Linked DNA regions of Homo sapiens: region 2 is linked to region 1. The links come from fine-mapping of genetic effects on gene expression. A gene starts in region 1. The other region holds a variant in brackets. All regions are shown on one strand. Distances are between the middles of the regions.

Region 1 (8,520 bases):
TGGGGCCAGATCTGAATTAAAGAGCAAAGCCCTGGGCCCTCCCCTTTGAAAGAAGCCGGGAGAGCAGATCTAAGGATACACTTTAGCTCTCCCTGGCTGGAATACCGGCCCTCTAGACCCACCCACCCTAGGCACCCCATCCCCCAGGGTCAGCTTCAACTTCCTCAAATCAGCCTGAGAAAAAGCTCTGAAATCCTGGGCTGAGAATTCCTCCCAAATGACTAGGAAGAGTTTGCATATTGTTTGCACATAGGATCCACCAAATGACTCAACTCAGTAAAAATGGGGGAAGAAAGGAGAGGAATTAAAATTCCACTTATGTAGAGAAAATTTAAATCAGCTGGGACTAGCACCCTGCTCTAGGACCAGGCAGGCTGGGAGAAATTTATTCTTCCCTCCCCCAACAAACACCCCTCACCACCGGAGCCCAGCGCTCCAGGAGGCAATGGGCACAAAAGAGAAATCGCAAAACTGCAAAGCTGGGAGTCTCTTCTCAGAGCTAACCCCACAGCCACAGCCACTCAACCAGAACCTGGAGGAGGGAAGGAGGCACTCCAGGTTATCAGCTCACTGAGGGATGGAAGGGTTTTCCAAGGGGCGTGGGGGGAACAAAATAGAAACTTTGTAACTTAAAGGAAATTGAAATATCTGAAAGGGAAAAGGAGTGAAGGGCCTGGGAAGGCTAGGTAGGGCATGTTCAAAACCCCAATCCCGCAGGCAATACTAGGTTCCTCAACCAGGAGCCACACTGGCTGCAGGCTGGGAAGGCCAGGGCTCTGGAGGCCTCAGAGGCAACCCAGGGCGTCACCTTAACATCTGGAGGGTGACCCCCACCACCCTCCTAGTAGGAGAGCCAGGGAGAAACTCAGGCCGTGAAGGTCTCCAAAACCCTGGAGGCGTCCCCAGATTCCGCTCTCAATTGGGTGGGCCCACAAGGAACAGAGCTCTCCAAGTCTCAGGCCTGGGAGGAGACCCATTTCCTCACTTCAAACTGCCAGGGGACAGGGATCTCCCCCAGAAGCCTGAAGGGAAGTCACCCCCTGACCCCAATTCTTGGCTTCAACCTATCAAGGCTGTAGCGCTAGACAGCTCCGGCCCAGGTAGGGGTTCAGGTCAACAGCTTCAGGGCTCATGGGGTCCCTGATCCAATCTGGCAGAGCCCATGGGGGAATGCGGCTCTGCGGACCCCAGGCCTAAGGGGGCATCGTCCCAAACACCCGACGCGCCCCCATCACCAGTTCCTCACTGGCAGGCCCCAAGCGGGAACGGGATTGGGAAGGCTTCGGGCCTGGGGGGCCTTACCCCGATGCCCCAGGGGCGCCCTGAACCCAGTTCCAGCCAGGCGGCGGCACCTCAGGCAGCGCAGGGAGCGCGACCGGCTCGGGGAGGGGGAGGACGCGGCGCTCCCGCCCTCCCTCGGTCCGCCTGTCCATCTCCAGGTCCCTCTGTCCGCCGGCCCCCTGGCTCTGCCCACCCTGGGGCTGGTGGTGGGCGCGGGCCGGGCCTAGGCCCATGCCCGGCCCCCCTTACTGCCTGCCCTCCTCCCTCACCACCCCACCCCACCCCCCCAGTGCTCGGCCTCGTTTCGTCACCGGATCCCCTGGAATGGGGGACGCGGGCGCGAAATACGAACCCAGCCACCGGCAGCTCCCTCCCCACGTGCGCTCGGCCCGCAGCGCAGAGGGCGGCCCGGGGTGGGGGCGCCTCACCTTTGCCCTCCATGGCGTGCACGAAGTCCCCCTGGTACAGCTGGCTGCGAAGCTTCTCCTCCAGGCTGAAGCCGCGGACGCTGACGATCTCCTCCACGTCCGACAAGTCCTCGTTCTCGTCGTATCGCTGGCGGTCAATCGGGCGCTGCGAGGACCCAAACCAGAGAGCCCGGGACATTATTGTGGGGGCTGGAGGTCGCCTCTCAACCTGGGCCCAGCACTAACAGGTGCAGCAGCCGAGCGCCCCCTGCACCCCACCATTGCAACCCAAGCAACTTTGCGCAATTGCCAAAGATGCTGAAAAGCAGGACAAGGAGAGGGGCCCGCACCCCGAGGGTCCAGCTGCGCTCTACGCGGGGTACTCCCCTCCGGTGTCTTCGGAAGCACTGAAGGGACATCTGGGGACCCTCCCCTGCCCCCCGCCCCCGAAATGTGCTGGGCTTCGCCCACTCGGCCGGGAGCCTGGTTATGTAACCCGCGAAGGGGGCTCCGGACACGGGCTGGCGGGGCAAATGTAGGCCCCAGGAGGAGCCGCTGCGGCGCCCGGCTCGGCGGTAACAGCAGCCCCAGCGGCCGCGGCGGCAGAGCCGGGAAGCCGGAACCGGGGGCCGGCGGCATTTCTAAAGCTGGAGCCGCCCCCGAGCTACCGGGGAAGCTGGAAAGCTGAAATGGAAGGGCTGAGACCCCAGCCGCCCCCGCCGCCCGCCCGCCAGTGCAAGAAGAGGAGGTGGGGGGAGGAGAATCGGGGCTTGGAAGGGGGAGAGGCAGACGGCCCGCCACAAAGCTCGGATCGGAGACCCCAAAACGCACCAGCAGCTGCCTCATCTCCCCACAAGCGCGCGCGCACACTCACTTCCTAAGGAGACTCCCCCACCACTCCCCGCATCCCCCTGCCTCCTCCCTCCACCGCCCAGCGCCCGGCCCCTCAGCCCCCCAGATTCCGGGCGAACCCCGAGCCCGCTCAGCCCCCCTCCACGCCTTTCCCCGATACCACCTCCCCACTTAAGTGTCTGAGACTCTAAGCCTCACAAGGGGCTGGAGGAGTAAGCAGCTTGCTTCCTTTTGCATGCAATTTATTATATTTTTTTCCCGGTCCTCTTGCAAAATACAGAAAAGGAAAGAAAAGGCAGCGAGAAACAACCAAAAAAAAAAAAAAAAAGATCTATCATATGCCAGATACAGATTTGGAAAAAAAAAAAAAAAAAAAAAGCTACACACCAATCTTCTTCCAGAGTCTTTCTCTGCCTCCATTTTTTTAGGAGAGTTCACCAATTAATTGTCAACACTCCTGCCCCCTGCATTTTGGCCGAGGGGGGAAGGAGGGAAGACCAAAGAAAACAAACCAAAAAATAAATAAATAAAGCAAGCCAGAGCCGAGATCTACAAAGTTTTGCACCAACACTTAGGCAGATCCGTTTGCAAAGTCCTAGGAAACCATTTTCAGCAGTTGTGGGGGGGGGGAGGCGTCGACGTCATAATCCCCGGAACGTAAACATTGTTGCCGATCGCGCTCGGAGCCCGCGGCCGGGCTATTTGGGGGGGCTCTCGGCCCGGGCTTGGGGGGGTGGGGGCGGCGGCCCGAGGAGGTATGGGGCGGGGAGGGAGCCCGGGAGGCACCGGGCGCCGTTAGCGCCGTGGCATCGCTGTTTTGTTGTTGGGTCACGAGTGCGCCTCTGCACGCAGGCGCCGCCGCCGCCCGGGAGTTGTGTGCAGAGCTGACTTTTGGAGGGCCGAGTTGCAGGCGGCGGGCGCATCCCGGAGATGGCGGGGCAGGGAGGGAGGGAAGGAGGAGGGGGCGGGGAGGGAGGTGCAGATTTGCACGGCTGGCCTCAGCGGGAGGCGCGGAAATGCAAGCCGAGCATGCTGGCGTGAAAGCCCCCGGGGCCTGGCACCCCCAAAAACGACCCCCCACCTCCGTTCCTGCCCTCATTGCCCAGGGCTACCCCTCTTCCTCTTCTTTCATCCACCCCTCCCCCAACATTACCTGTGTGGCCGACTCAAATTCAAAGCATTTTGTATATATAACTGTTTTCTTTTTTTGCTTTTCTGCTGCATGTCTTTTTCGTGGGGGGTGATCCTCTGCAGATCCCCCCATTTGCGGACCCGCCATGTGGAGGAGGCATTTGGGGGGCTCAGAAGGAAATTAGCTCGGCTTCCATACCTATAAGGACTGCCTAACTTTTAAACTCCCGGCACTCAAAGATGTGGACACACACACGTACAGGAAATACAGCCAGACCAGAGCCTTTGCAGTCCGCAGCTGACCGGAAGACGTTGCCTTTCATTCATTCATTCTGCCCGCCTCTGTGGACTCCTTTACTAGGCGACCAGCCCTGAAACAGAAGTTGGACATTTTTTAAAGGTTCTTGCGCTCGGCAAGGGGAGCAGATAGATGCTCAGGAGCGAAAGACGCAGAGAATTGGATCTGGCGCCTCCTAACGCAGCCCGCACAGGAGCGAAGGGTAAGCCCTTGTTGGTAGTTTATAGAAGACAAGTCGGTGGAAAGGTGCATGGTGCTCTGGGATAGGTGGGGGGAACTCTAGTGCCCTTGATGAAGCCCCTACAGGGCTTCTTAGCGGAGGTATCGGCACCCTCCGTACATACATGGGTGTCATTAGGTCCCTGTCCACTTACTAGTGTTTTTGACTACCCCAGCACTGGTCCTGGGTTGTCTTGTCCTCCCATCATGAGCAACAGTCAGGTCGACTTGGCTTGAGAAAAGCTAGCCCTAAACATTCCTCCAGCCCCAGCTGTGGCGCCCTGCTAGGCCTGATCTTGCGGGTAAAGATGCTGATAAAATGACATGGCAAGAGGGAGACGATAAAGGGACATTGTAGATAGCAGGCTTTGAGCCTGACATTTTATTTCTGCCATAACCCTGTGGGATACTTGGAGCAGGTCATTTTGCAGATAGGGAAACTGAAGCTCAGAGAAATTATGAATCTGAATGATTGCTGTGCTCCCATATGGTCCCCAGGCTATCAGACAGACCTGTGGGGAGGACGTGGCTTCCCCACCAGGAGATACGATGTCACTATCAGCATCGTATTGGCCGTCCTAAGAGACAGCTTCCCCCTCACTCACCTTAGAAGTTTCCTGTCCTATCTGACTGTAGTCTTTCCCACCCATCCTCAAAGGCTACTCTTTGAAGTTTGTTTTCATTCATGTTCACTAGCTGTAAAAATCTTTTAAGCAGGGATGAGGCTGGGAAACATCAAAATTTGTTTCCAAACTGAAATCGCCCACGTTGGCTGCTGCGTGCAATCAGTAGCCCTTCGTGTGAGTGCTGCCGGTTCTGCCTTCAGTCCGTCCAGAACCATGGACCATTTTATTTGTTCCTGTCTTTCTCACAAGAACCCTTTAAGGGAAATCGTCTTGTTCGTTCCCATTTTGCAAAGGAGGAAATTAGGACTAAGAAAAGCAAAGCCACTCACCCAGGATCACATAGCGCGTATGTGCCGCTGCCAGGGCTCACACTGGAGCCTGGCTTGGCCATCACGTGCTTTTTTTTTTTTTTTTTTTTTTTTTAGTAACTTACCAGCCTCACTACTGCCCCATAATGAAATAAACATGTTCAAAGGAGGCTGCATGGGCTGGAGAGTGACGCAAAGTGAATTAAGTGAAATAAAGCAAAAAATATATAATAGAATGCTTCATCTAATTAATTCTTTTTTCTCCCTGAGGCCCTTCTTTCTCTCCAAGTGGCCTCATAGTGGCCCCAAAAGCTGGCATCAGAAAAAGGTCCAATGGCAGCCACCTTAGTATAAAAACAGTTAAGTCCATCTATCACCTCCACGAGGAGTTCCTGGCCTGTCAGAGTGGGAAGGGGCTGGGTAGTCACCTCATTTAATCCCCCCCCTTTACAAACCTCGAGGAAACCGCAAACACGAGAAAAGAATGGGCCAGCCGGGGGTTTGTTCCCCTTGGCCTCCCCCAGAATGCCTGCCCTGCTGCCGGGTCCTAAGTGGCCACTCAATAAATGTTGGGCCCTTGATGAATCACCTTCCCCCTCGATATTTGCATTTTCTCTTTATCAGTAATTGGCAGATGAAAGGCTTTGTCCTCCAGTTGAAAGAATTCCAAGCATTTGCTCAAAGTGGGGGAGGAGGTTATTTTGGACCAAAGGGGGAAGGGCCAAGACCCTGGAGCTCCCAGTGTTGACTAATTGTCCCAGAGAAGTGGAGAGTAGGTAAGGGAAGAGAGAAGGTGAAGGTGCTTACCCCAGAGATGTACTTTTTCTTGCAGGAAAACACCGGGCCGGTTGTATTGGAAACATAATAATAATTATTTCCTGGACCCTCCTGCTCGATCTTACAAAGGGCCCAGTCAAATCCTGCCTGAGTTACCCCCATTCATTCTTCATTCATCAAAGGTTGATTGAGCAACTCTGTGCCCAAAGACAGAGAGGCTAGAGAAAAGAAGATGCAGCGTGGGGCATGCAGATTGGGGCATACTCGAGGCTGGGTAGGACGATGGACCTGCAGCTTCCCAAGGAAAGGGTGGACACTGGATGTAGCTCTCAGAAACCAGAATCTTGATAAGAAATTGAAGTTGTTCTCATATTCATATATGATTATCATAACTCCTGATTTTTCTTTTCTTTTTTTTGAGAGAGGGTCTTGCTCTGTTGCCCAGGCTGGAGTGCAGTGACACAATCTCAGCTCACTGCAACCTCCACCTCCTGGACTCAGCAATGCTCCACCTTAGCCTTCCAAGTAGCTGAGACTACAGGAGTGCACCACCATGCCCAGCTAATTTTTGTATTTTTGGTAGAGACAGGGTTTTGCCGTGTTGCCCAGGCTGGTCTCCAACTCCTAGGCTCAAGTGTTCCTCCCACCTCGGCCTCCCAAAGTGCTGAGATTACAGCCGTAAGCCACCACACCTGGCCCTGTTTTGTTTTAATTTAAGGATATCTAATCATTCCACATCAGCATATGTGGAATGCTATAGCACATCAGCTATAGTTTCCTTATTCTTTCTAATGATTTCATAGCATTTCATTGGGCAGATAAATGGTGCAAGAATGATTTAATTAGTTCCCTAACTTTTAGATGGTTTTCAATCTTTTTCTATTGCAAACAGAGCTATAAGGGATTGCAGCTTTGTGCTTGAGTCTGTCAGTAGAATATATATCTGAAAGTGATCATCCACGTCTCAGGATTCCTACCCTATCACCAACTATTTGTCCTTGAGAAGTTTATTTGTAAGATCTGAGCAGGTGGGACAACCTCATATCCAACTGGTATCCCCAGGAGTCTACGCAGTGCCATGCCCTTGGCAGGCACTCAGAGAGAGTGGTTTAAGGGCTAACACTGCAAGCATTCACACTGTAATCAGATGGCCTCTTCTAGGAAACCTTTGCTGATATCCTTGGCCCCCTTTCCCCATGGACCCTTCATTCATTCCACAAATGTTTGTGGAAGGTTGATTAGGGGGACCCTGTATCAAATCAGCCTCTTAGGTATATATAGCCTGGTAGGTGAGTTAAAACAAATTCTGGAAAGCACTCTAAGGCTGTGCTGTTTGATGGGATACATTAGCTACATACAGCTACTTAAATTTAATTAAAATAAAATGTAAAATTCAGCTCCTTAACCCAGTACCTACATTTGAAGGGGCTAGAAGTGACAGCACTGAATGGTGCAGATACAGAATATCCCTATCATTGGCTGGGCGCTGTGGGTCACACCTGTAATCCCAGCATTTTGGGATGCTGAGGCAGGTGGATCACCTGAGGTCAGGAGTTCAAGACCAGCCTGGCCAACAGGATGAAACCCCCGTCTCTATTAAAAATACAAAAATTGGACAAGCGTGGTGGTGCACACCTGTAATCCCAGCAACTCGGGAGGCTGAGGCAGGAGAATTGCTTGAACCCAGGAGGCAGAGTTTGCAATGAGCTGATTGCACCACTGCACTCAAGCCTGGGTGACAGAGGGGGATTCTGTCTCAAAAAAAAAAAAAGAATATCTTGAATAACTCTATCATCTTCTGTGGGACAGCCCTGAAGGGAGGCTTAGCATAGTGGGCAACCCTGTGGGCTCTGGATTCCTGTAAGCTCTGAGTTCGAATCCTATCATTATTTCCTAGCTATAAAATTTGGCCAAGCAAGTTAACCTGTCTTTGAGCCTCAGCCATAAAGGTGGGGAATTACAGCCCCTTATGGAGATTTGGCAAGGATTCAAAGGTACTGCAAATGTGAGGGGCTTTGCACAAAGTCATAGTAATATTATAAAAAATCTGGAGTGAAGCCAGGCGCAGTGGCTCATGCCTATAATCCCAGCAATTTGGGAGGCCAAGGCGGACAGATCACCTGTGCTCAGGAGTTCGAGACCAGCTTGGGCAACATGATAAAACCCTATCTCTACTAAAAATACAAAAATTAGCTGGGTGTGGTGGCGTGCGCCTGTAGTCCCAGCTACTCAGGAGGCTGAGGCACAAGAACCGCTTGAACCCAGGAGGCAGAGGTTGCAGTGAGCCAAGATCATTCACTGCACTCCAGCCTGGGTGACATCCCGAGACTCCGTCTCCAAACCAAAACGAAACTAAACAACATGCAGAATACTAATAATACTAAGTTGTGCGGACCATGTAAGGAAACCAAAAGGGTTATGTCTGTATCTACATGCTTTTTTTTTTTTTTTTTTTTTTGTGAGACAGAGTCTTGCTATAACACCCAGGCTGGAGTACAATGGCACAATCTCGGCTCACTGAAACCTCCGCCTCCCGGGTTCAAGCAATTCTCCTGCCTCAGCCTCCCAAGTAGCTGGGACTACAGGCGCATACCACCATGCCCGGCTGATTTTTGTGTTTT
Region 2 (8,000 bases), 130 kb before region 1:
AGAGCGAGACTCCGTCAAAAAAAAGATCACCAGTTTCATCTAAGAATATCTCTGATGAAACAGTAAAAATTACTTTATGAAAACCTTACCCTAGAGTACACATCCTTTTCATGTGCTTTGTGACAATAAGAAGTATGCGTAAAGTGCCTCGGCACACAGGTGACGCGTACCAAAGGAAAAGCACTCGTGACTGAGCTGGGAGGTGAAATGGCCACTTTCTCCACAGATTATTTTTACTTGAAGGAATGACTGATAGAAACCCCCTGGACACTGGTGTATTTTTGTGAAGATCAAAGAAGTGAGCTTGTCATTTCCAGAAAAATAACTGACAGCATTTGTTGCAAATGACAAAATTCAAGTTTCTGAATGAAAATTAGACTTTTGGAAAACTTTTATGAACCACCATAACCCGCACAGCTTCCCAATACTGAGAGACTTTTCCAATGAGATCAGTAATCATATTAACAAACGTGATTTCTAAAATAATATTATGTGCCAATATTTGGAAAATCCGCCTAACTCAGGGAGCCAATATTTTCCAGATGACCAATACATGGTGTTACAACATCATGCCTGAGCAAATGAGCTACTCAAAGGTCAAGACAGGCTAATGATTTTCAATGTAACAGTGTGAACAGCTCATTGATACAGTTTCAGACTCCACATTGCAACTAAACTTTAAAAAAAACTGTTGAGTTCTAGTTGAGTATCAGAGTATCCACAGTTATCAAAAAGGCTATTAAAATACTCCTCCCTTTTCCAAGTAGTATATATCTGTGTGAGGCAAAATTTTCCTCATACTCCCTCCAAAACAACATATCACAATAGACAAAACACAGAAGCAGATATGAAAATTCCAGGTCTTCTCTTTTTTTTTTTTATTTTTTGAGATGGAGTCTTGCTCTGTCACCCAGGCTGGAGTGCAGTGGCACGGTCTCGACTCACTGCAACCTCTGCCTCCTGGGTTCAAGCGATTCTCCTGCCTCAGCCTCCCGAGTAGCACAGGTGCCCGCCACCACGCCCAGCTAATTTTTTATATTTGTAGTAGAGATGCGGGGTTTCACCATGTTGGTCAGGCTGGTCTCGGACTCCTGACCTCATGATCCACCCACATCGGCCTCCCAAAGTGCCAGGATTACAGGCGTAAACCACCGCACCCGGCAATTCCAAGTCCTTTCTAATGAATCAGACATAACAGAGATTTACAAAAATATAAAACAACGCCATTCTTCTTATTTTTCTTTTGGAAAATGTAATTATTTCTCATAAAAATATGTTATTTCTTTTTTCTTATTTATTGTTGAGACGGTGTCTTGCTCTGTTGCCCAGTCTGGAGTGCAGTGACATGATCTCGGCTCACTGCAACCTCTGTCTGCCTCCTGGGTTCAAGCGATTCTCCCACCTCAGCCTCCCGAGTAGCTGGGACTACAGGCGTGCTGGGTAATTTTTGTATTTTTAGTAGAGATGGGGTTTCACCATGTTGGCCAGGCTTGTCTCAAACTCCTGACCTCGAGTGATCCTCCCACCTTAGCCTCCCAAAGTGTTGTGATTGCAGGCATTAGCCACCGCGCCCGGCCAAAATATGTTATTTCTATTAACACGTCATGGGTTTTCTTGTTATTTTAAGATAAATTTAAAATCTAAAAAAAAATTTCTTGGCCAGGAGTGATAGCACATGCCTGCAATCCCAGCACTTTGGGAGGCCAAGGCAGGCGGATTGCCTGAGCCCAGGAGTTTGAGACTAGCCTGGGCAACGTGGCAAAACCCTGTCTTTACAAAAAAATACAAAAATTAGTTGAGTGTAGTGGTGAATGCCTGTAGTCCCAGCTGCTCGGGAGACTGAGGTGGGAGGACTGCTTGAGCCCAGGAGGTAGAGGCTGCAGTGAGCCACGAGCACACCACTGCACTCCAGCCTGAGCGACACAGCAAGACTCTGTCTCAAAAAAAAAAAAAAAAAAAAAAAAAATCAGTTTTAATTTTTTTTTTTAGCTAAAGTCCTCTCACATCAAACTCAGTTTAAATTTCTAATACGGTCAATATTAATAAATATATAGCCTACATAAAAGAAAAGCTCTTTAGGGTCCTCATAATTTTGAAGAGCATGAAGGGGTCCCTGAGACCACGAAGTGTGAGAACTTGATGCACCCGGCTGTGAGCCCCCTGAGGCCAGGGCAGGTCAGCCTCATCCCGCCCAGTGCACCTGCAGACAGAGGAAGCACGCAGCCAACCTTTATTATGCTGCTCAGAGGAGCTTCAAGCAGGCTGGGATATACACGCCATTGGTAAGTGAAAAAGACTTGATTAAATGGCGCAAATGTTTGAATTCTAATAAACAGGACACAGAAGGCAAGGCAGTCATCGTTCCTTCCACAAATACCAAACACACATCTGCCACGGCCTGAAACAAGGTCCTGGGGCCACAGGAGCGAGGGAGATGGCTGCTCCCCATGAGCTATTTGGGAAGACAAAGACATTAAGTCGCTGAAATCCAAAGAAAACATGGAAAAATCATGTTCAAGAGTTCTCAGAAGCAGCAGAGGCTGATTTCTGGAGGACTTGGAGGACAGGGTGGAGAGAAGCCAAGTGGGCAAGGCCGCGGGGCCTCAAGGTGAATGAGGACAGAGCAGGCCAGGCCAAAGGGGACGTCTGGGGACCAGACTGCAGCGGGGGGCACAGGGTGAAGCACGGCCCACACGGCAAGAAGAGGGTCTGTGGTGGGGTGGGGCAGATGGCAGAACGGGCTCTGAGCCAGGTGGCAGGATGGGAGGCGGTGCCAGAGGCAAATCTCCTGCAGGGGCTGGCAGGGGGCTTGGGGCGCATGTGGGGGGGCAGACTGCAGGACACCAGCATGACATCGGCATGACACTGGCAGGGACATGGTGGAGAGGGGAGGCTACGGAGGCAGCCCCAGCGACGGAGCAAAGGGAGGGTCCAGAAAAGGAAGATAGGTGGGGCTGCGTATGTCACAGGTGGGTAACACGTGAGAAGTGCCCTGGCAGAGCAGAAGGGCTAGGAGAAGAGTAAGAAGGACCCCAAGGGTCAGGCCAAGCCTGCATCTGCCATCAGTTCCAGAAGCCACGTCAAGCTGAAGAGAGTAGGAGACGTAGAAAAATGGGGTTTCCTTCAACCAGCATGCGCTGTGCCAGGCACCAGAGCTGCAAAGATAAGATGGCACCCGAGACAGGTTTCCTATAACTGGGCCCAGCACACGGGGGCTGGGAGATAATAATGCCAAAGAGAAAAAGACAGTCGCGGGTTCATTACTGGCACACATTGGGTTTTAGGTGACACCGTTCTAAAAACCAACAGTTGCTATAGACAAGCTCTTTTAAATTCTATAGGATCCAATGGGTCACATGGACCCAGTCTCCAAAAAATGCACATCCATGCATGCACATAGACAAAAATGCATTTAATTTCAGGATGGCTCACAAATTCCCCGAAATCCATGGAAATGTCCTGGGGTTCGGGTACCAATTAAAAGCACAAGCAGTGGAACTGAACTTCTGCAGCAAAAGAAAGAACTGACAGAGTGAAAAGGCAATCTACAGGATGGAAGAAAATCCTTGCTAACCAGAGACCTGATAAGGGTTAATATCCAAAACATATCTAGAACTCCTCTAACTCAGCAACAAAAACCCCCAAAAGAAAGCCGATCTAGGCCAGATGCACTGTAATCCCAGCACTTTGGGAGGCCAAGGCGGGAGGGTGATCACCTGAGGTCAGGGGTTTGAGACCAGCCTAGACAATAGAGTGAAACCCTGCCTCTACCAAAAATACAAAAATTAGCTGGGTGTGGAGGTATGTGCCTGTAACTCCAGCTACTTGGGAGGCTGAGGTAGGATAATTTCTTGAACCCAGGAGGCAGAAGTTGCAGTGAGCCGAGACTGCGCCACTGCACTCCAGCCTGGGCAAAAGAATGAGACTCTGTCTCAAAAAAAAAAAAGAAAGAAAAAAAAGAAAAGAAAAAAGTAAATCAGTTTAAAAACGGGCTAAGGACTCAGACATTTCTCCAAAGAAGACAGACAAACAGCCAATAAGCACTTGAGAAGATGCTCAACATCACTAAGAATTAGGGAAAAGTAAATCAAAACTACAGTGAGACGTCACCTCATACAAATTAGGATGGCCACTAAAAACAAACTGAAAGCCCATAACATAACAGATGTTGGTGGGGACACAGAGAAACAGGAACCTTCATCGGGTGCGGTGGCTCACGCCTGTAATCCCAGCACTTTGGGAGGCCGAGGCGGGTGGATCACGAGGTCAGGAGATCCAGACCATCCTAGCCAACATGGTGAAACCCCGTCTCTACTAAAAATGCAAAAAAATTAGCCAGGCGTGGTGGCGGGCACTGGTAGTCCCAGCTACTCTGGAGGCTGAGGCAGGAAAAATGGCATGAACCCAGGAGGTGGAGCTTGCAGTGAGCCGAGATCGTGCCACTGCACTCCAGCCTGGGTGACAGAGCAAGACTCC[A/ATC]TCAAAAAAAAAAAAGAGGAAGAAACAGGAACTTTCATGCACCCGTGGTGGGAATGTAAAACGGGATGGCCGCGGTGGCCAACAGTACAGAGGTTCCTCAAAAAGTTAAAAATAGAATCGTCATATGACCCAGCAAGCCCACTTCTGGGCATGGAGTTGACCCTTACACAGCACAGGATTGAACTGTGTGGGTCCGCTTATATGCCGATTTTTTTTCAACAAAAGTTATACTGAGTGTGCCTGCGTCTCCTGCCCCCCCCTTCTACCTCCTCCATCTCTTCTGCCTCTGCCACCTCTGAGACAGCAAGACCAACCCCTCCTCCTCTGCCTACACAATGTGAAGATGATGAGCATGAAGACCTTTATGATGATCCACTTCCACTTAATGAATGATAAATATATTTTCCTTATGATCTTCTTAATATTTTCTTTTCTCTAGCTTATTTTATTGTGAGAATACAGTATATAATACATATAAGATATGTGTTAATGGACTGTTTTTGTTACTGGTAAGGCTTCTGGTCAACAATAGGGCTAACAGTAGTTAAGTTTTAGGGGAGTCAAAAGTTACATGCAGATTTTCAACTGCACAGAGGTCAGATGGTGCCCCAACCCTTGTGTTGTTCAAGGGTCAATTGTATATCCAGAAGAATTCAAAACATGATCTCAAAGAGATATCTGCACACCCATATTCACTGCAGCACTATTCACAACAGGCAAGAGGTGAAAGCAATCCATATGTCCATCAACAGATGAATGGATAAAGAAAAGTTGAGCCAGGCGTGGTGGCTCACGCCTGTAATCCCAGCACTCTTGGAGGCCGAGGTGGGTAGATCACTTGAGGTCAGGAGTTCGAGACCAGCCTGGCCAACATGATGAAGCCCCGTCTGTACTAAAAATATAAAAATTAGCCAGATGTGGTGGCAGGTGCCTGTAATCCCAGCTACTCAGGAGACTGAGGCAGGAGAATCGCTTGAACCCAGGAGGCAGGGGTTGTTGTAAGCCAAGATTCCACTGCTGCACTCCAGCCTGGGCAACAGAGCAAGACTCCATCTCAGAAAAAAAAAAGAAAATTTGGTACAAATACACTTTCAGTATTAATCGGCCATAAAAAAAAAGGAAATTGTCATATGCTTCAACATGGATGAACCCTGAGGACTTTATGCTCAGGGCTATAAACAAGCCAATCCAATCACAGAAAGCCAATTACTGCATAATTCCACTTCTATGAGGTCCCGAGAGGAGTCAAGCTCTTAGAAACTGAAAGTGGAATGGTGGTTGCCCGGGCTGAGGGAGGGGAAAGGGGAGTAGAGCTTCAGTGGGTATGGAGTTTCAGTTTTGCAAAATGAAAAAGTTCTAGGGATCAGCTTCCCAAAAACGTGCATATGGTAATACTACTGTACTGCATACTTAAAAATGATTAATGTATTTTTTTTACCACAATTTCAAAAAACAAAACACAAGAAATATGCGTGGAAGGAGATGGCTGAGGTGTCTGGGCCTGCGGGGCATCGACAGCCAAGGAGGAAGGGCTCACCCTATGCCAGGCTGGGCCTGCAGATGAGCGCACCAGGGCCGAGGAATCCCGTCCCTCCAGCCGAGCCTGCTTTTCCACGGGGACTGGGAGATGACTCCTCCACAGGGAGGACCGCCGGCCCCCGGGGAGCAGCGCCCTGAGGAAGGCAGAGCATGTGGGTGTGTACAAGGGAATTCAAGGGCAAACCCCGCGACCTCGCCCCGTTGCGAAGTCCATGTCCACTGCCCTGTCTGGGGACGAGACCAGCGGCGCGGGGCCACTGCCGGAGCTGAGGCCAGGCGGTGTGGAGGGGCGGGCCAGGCTCTCCCGGGCGCGGCTCCTCAGTACCATAAATCACTCCTTGTTGGGGGCAGCCCCCTGAGATGGGGCGCTGACCTTCCACCCAGACTTCTGACTCTGAAGGCAGGGCCGGAAGGAAGGAAGGAAGGGCCCAGAACCGTCACCCAGAACCGTAATGTTGGCAACGGGGTCACAGACAGGACAGGCTGCCTGTCATCTTTAATGGCAGCAACTTCAAAGTACCTGAGCACCCTGGGAGGGAAGGAGCAGGAGGCCTGAGCCTGCGAAGCGGCCAGCGCCTTCCCGTCCACAGGAAGAGCTCTCGGGGAGTCCACAGCCCCGGCTTCTCTGTGTGCGGAGGGGCGGCCAGAGCGAGCAGCGGTCAGACACGCGGGCCGGCACGCAGGGGCCTGAATCGAGCGCAGGGCTGGGCGGGGGCCGCACTCACCGCGATGCACTGCCGCATGATGCAGCTCTGCTTCATGCGCCCGGGGCCCCCGAACTTCTTCATGTCCTTGCAGAAGTGGCACTCTCCGCACTCGGTCCGCAGGCAGGCCTCGCACTTGCGGCATCGCGTCCGGCGCCGCCGAGCTCCTGCCGTTGTCCGGTTGGCGGCCAACTTCACCGCGGAGGCCGGGCCCAGCTTCCCCTTGGGCCGACCCACAGCCCGGTTCTGCAGGGGAACAGACACGACTGGTCAGATGGGGAGACTGCAGGCACGGCCAGACCCCCGGAAAGGGTGTTAGGGAGCAAACTGTGTACCCCCAGAAAGACACGATGGGGGCTCTAAACCCCATTCCTCAGAGTGTGATCTTTATTTGGAGATGGGGGCTTTGCAGAGACCGTCAGGTTAAACGAGGTAATTCAGGTGAACGCTAATCCAGTATGACTGGTGTCCTTACGAAAGGGGAACTTTTGGACACAGAGACAGACACGCACGTAGAGAACGTGTGTGAAGACACAGGCCTTCCACAGACTGGAGCCCTGTCTACAAGCCAAGAAGTGCCAAGGATGGCAGCACATACCAGGAGCTGGAGGCGCGGGGAAGGACCCTCCCCTAGAGCCCGCAGAGCCAGCCCGGCCCGCCAGCCCACACCTTGACTTCAGACTCCTGGCCTCCAGAACCGGGAGAGAAGAAAGGCCGGTTGTTTTAAGCCACCCGTTATGGCAGCCCTAGGAGAGGACGACAGAGGGCGCGTGCTTCTTGCCGCAGCACACAGCTCGAGACCTTCCATGGCTGCACCCACAGGCTCGGACCCTGCCCACCTTTCCCACCTCCGTCTGCTCCCCAAGAAAGACCGCAAGGGGCCACACAATCGGTCTCTGTTCCCCCAGCCCGGAAGGCCAACCCCACCCCCGCCCAAGCCACTTGGCTGATGCCCACTCATTCCGTCTGGTCAGTTTACAGGCTGCTTTCTTCTGGAAGCCCCTACTGCCCACCTGCACTGGGTTCAGGGCCCCTCTGGGAGATCCTGTTAGAGCGCTCATGATGGTAATCATCTGTTCCTTCCCTTTGAGACGGGGCACAGGAGGGCACTCACCACAGGTGTCTTGTGCACCACTGCACCTCTCTACGAGCCAGCCTGGCATGCAGAATGCACTCAACAAACCAGAGCCACCCCAGGGAGGATGGGATAGTAACCTTTAGGTCCCTGACTACTCAGATCTTCCCTAGATGGGCTCCAAATGCTCCCTTCCCTGGGACTCA

Evidence for each region. PIP is the estimated chance that this variant, and not a neighbour inherited with it, causes the effect.
Region 2: its variant is the best candidate, but not a certain one, in a credible set for the expression of KDM2B in fibroblasts (GTEx, PIP 0.67).

What each region holds. Positions count from the first base shown.
Region 1 is chr12:121,577,093-121,585,612 of GRCh38, forward strand. It overlaps KDM2B (lysine demethylase 2B), which reads right to left and starts at 3,931. Exons shown (of 23, transcript NM_032590.5): 1 at 3,694-3,931; 2 at 1,710-1,854. The coding sequence starts at 3,819. KDM2B-DT (KDM2B divergent transcript) reads left to right here and starts at 3,419. Exons shown (of 4, transcript NR_183427.1): 1 at 3,419-4,171. RefSeq lists enhancers at 1-299, 3,221-4,156, 5,092-6,027, 6,028-6,961 and silencers at 1,973-2,052, 3,212-3,521, 3,602-3,651.
Region 2 is chr12:121,446,380-121,454,379 of GRCh38, forward strand. KDM2B (lysine demethylase 2B) reads right to left here. Exons shown (of 23, transcript NM_032590.5): 13 at 6,741-6,965. Among named protein-coding and RNA genes, the nearest start is that of MIR7107, 6.0 kb to the left of the region's middle. RefSeq lists enhancers at 2,198-2,698, 2,699-3,199, 5,731-6,545, 6,546-7,359. The variant A/ATC (reference allele first, on the strand shown) is at 4,477.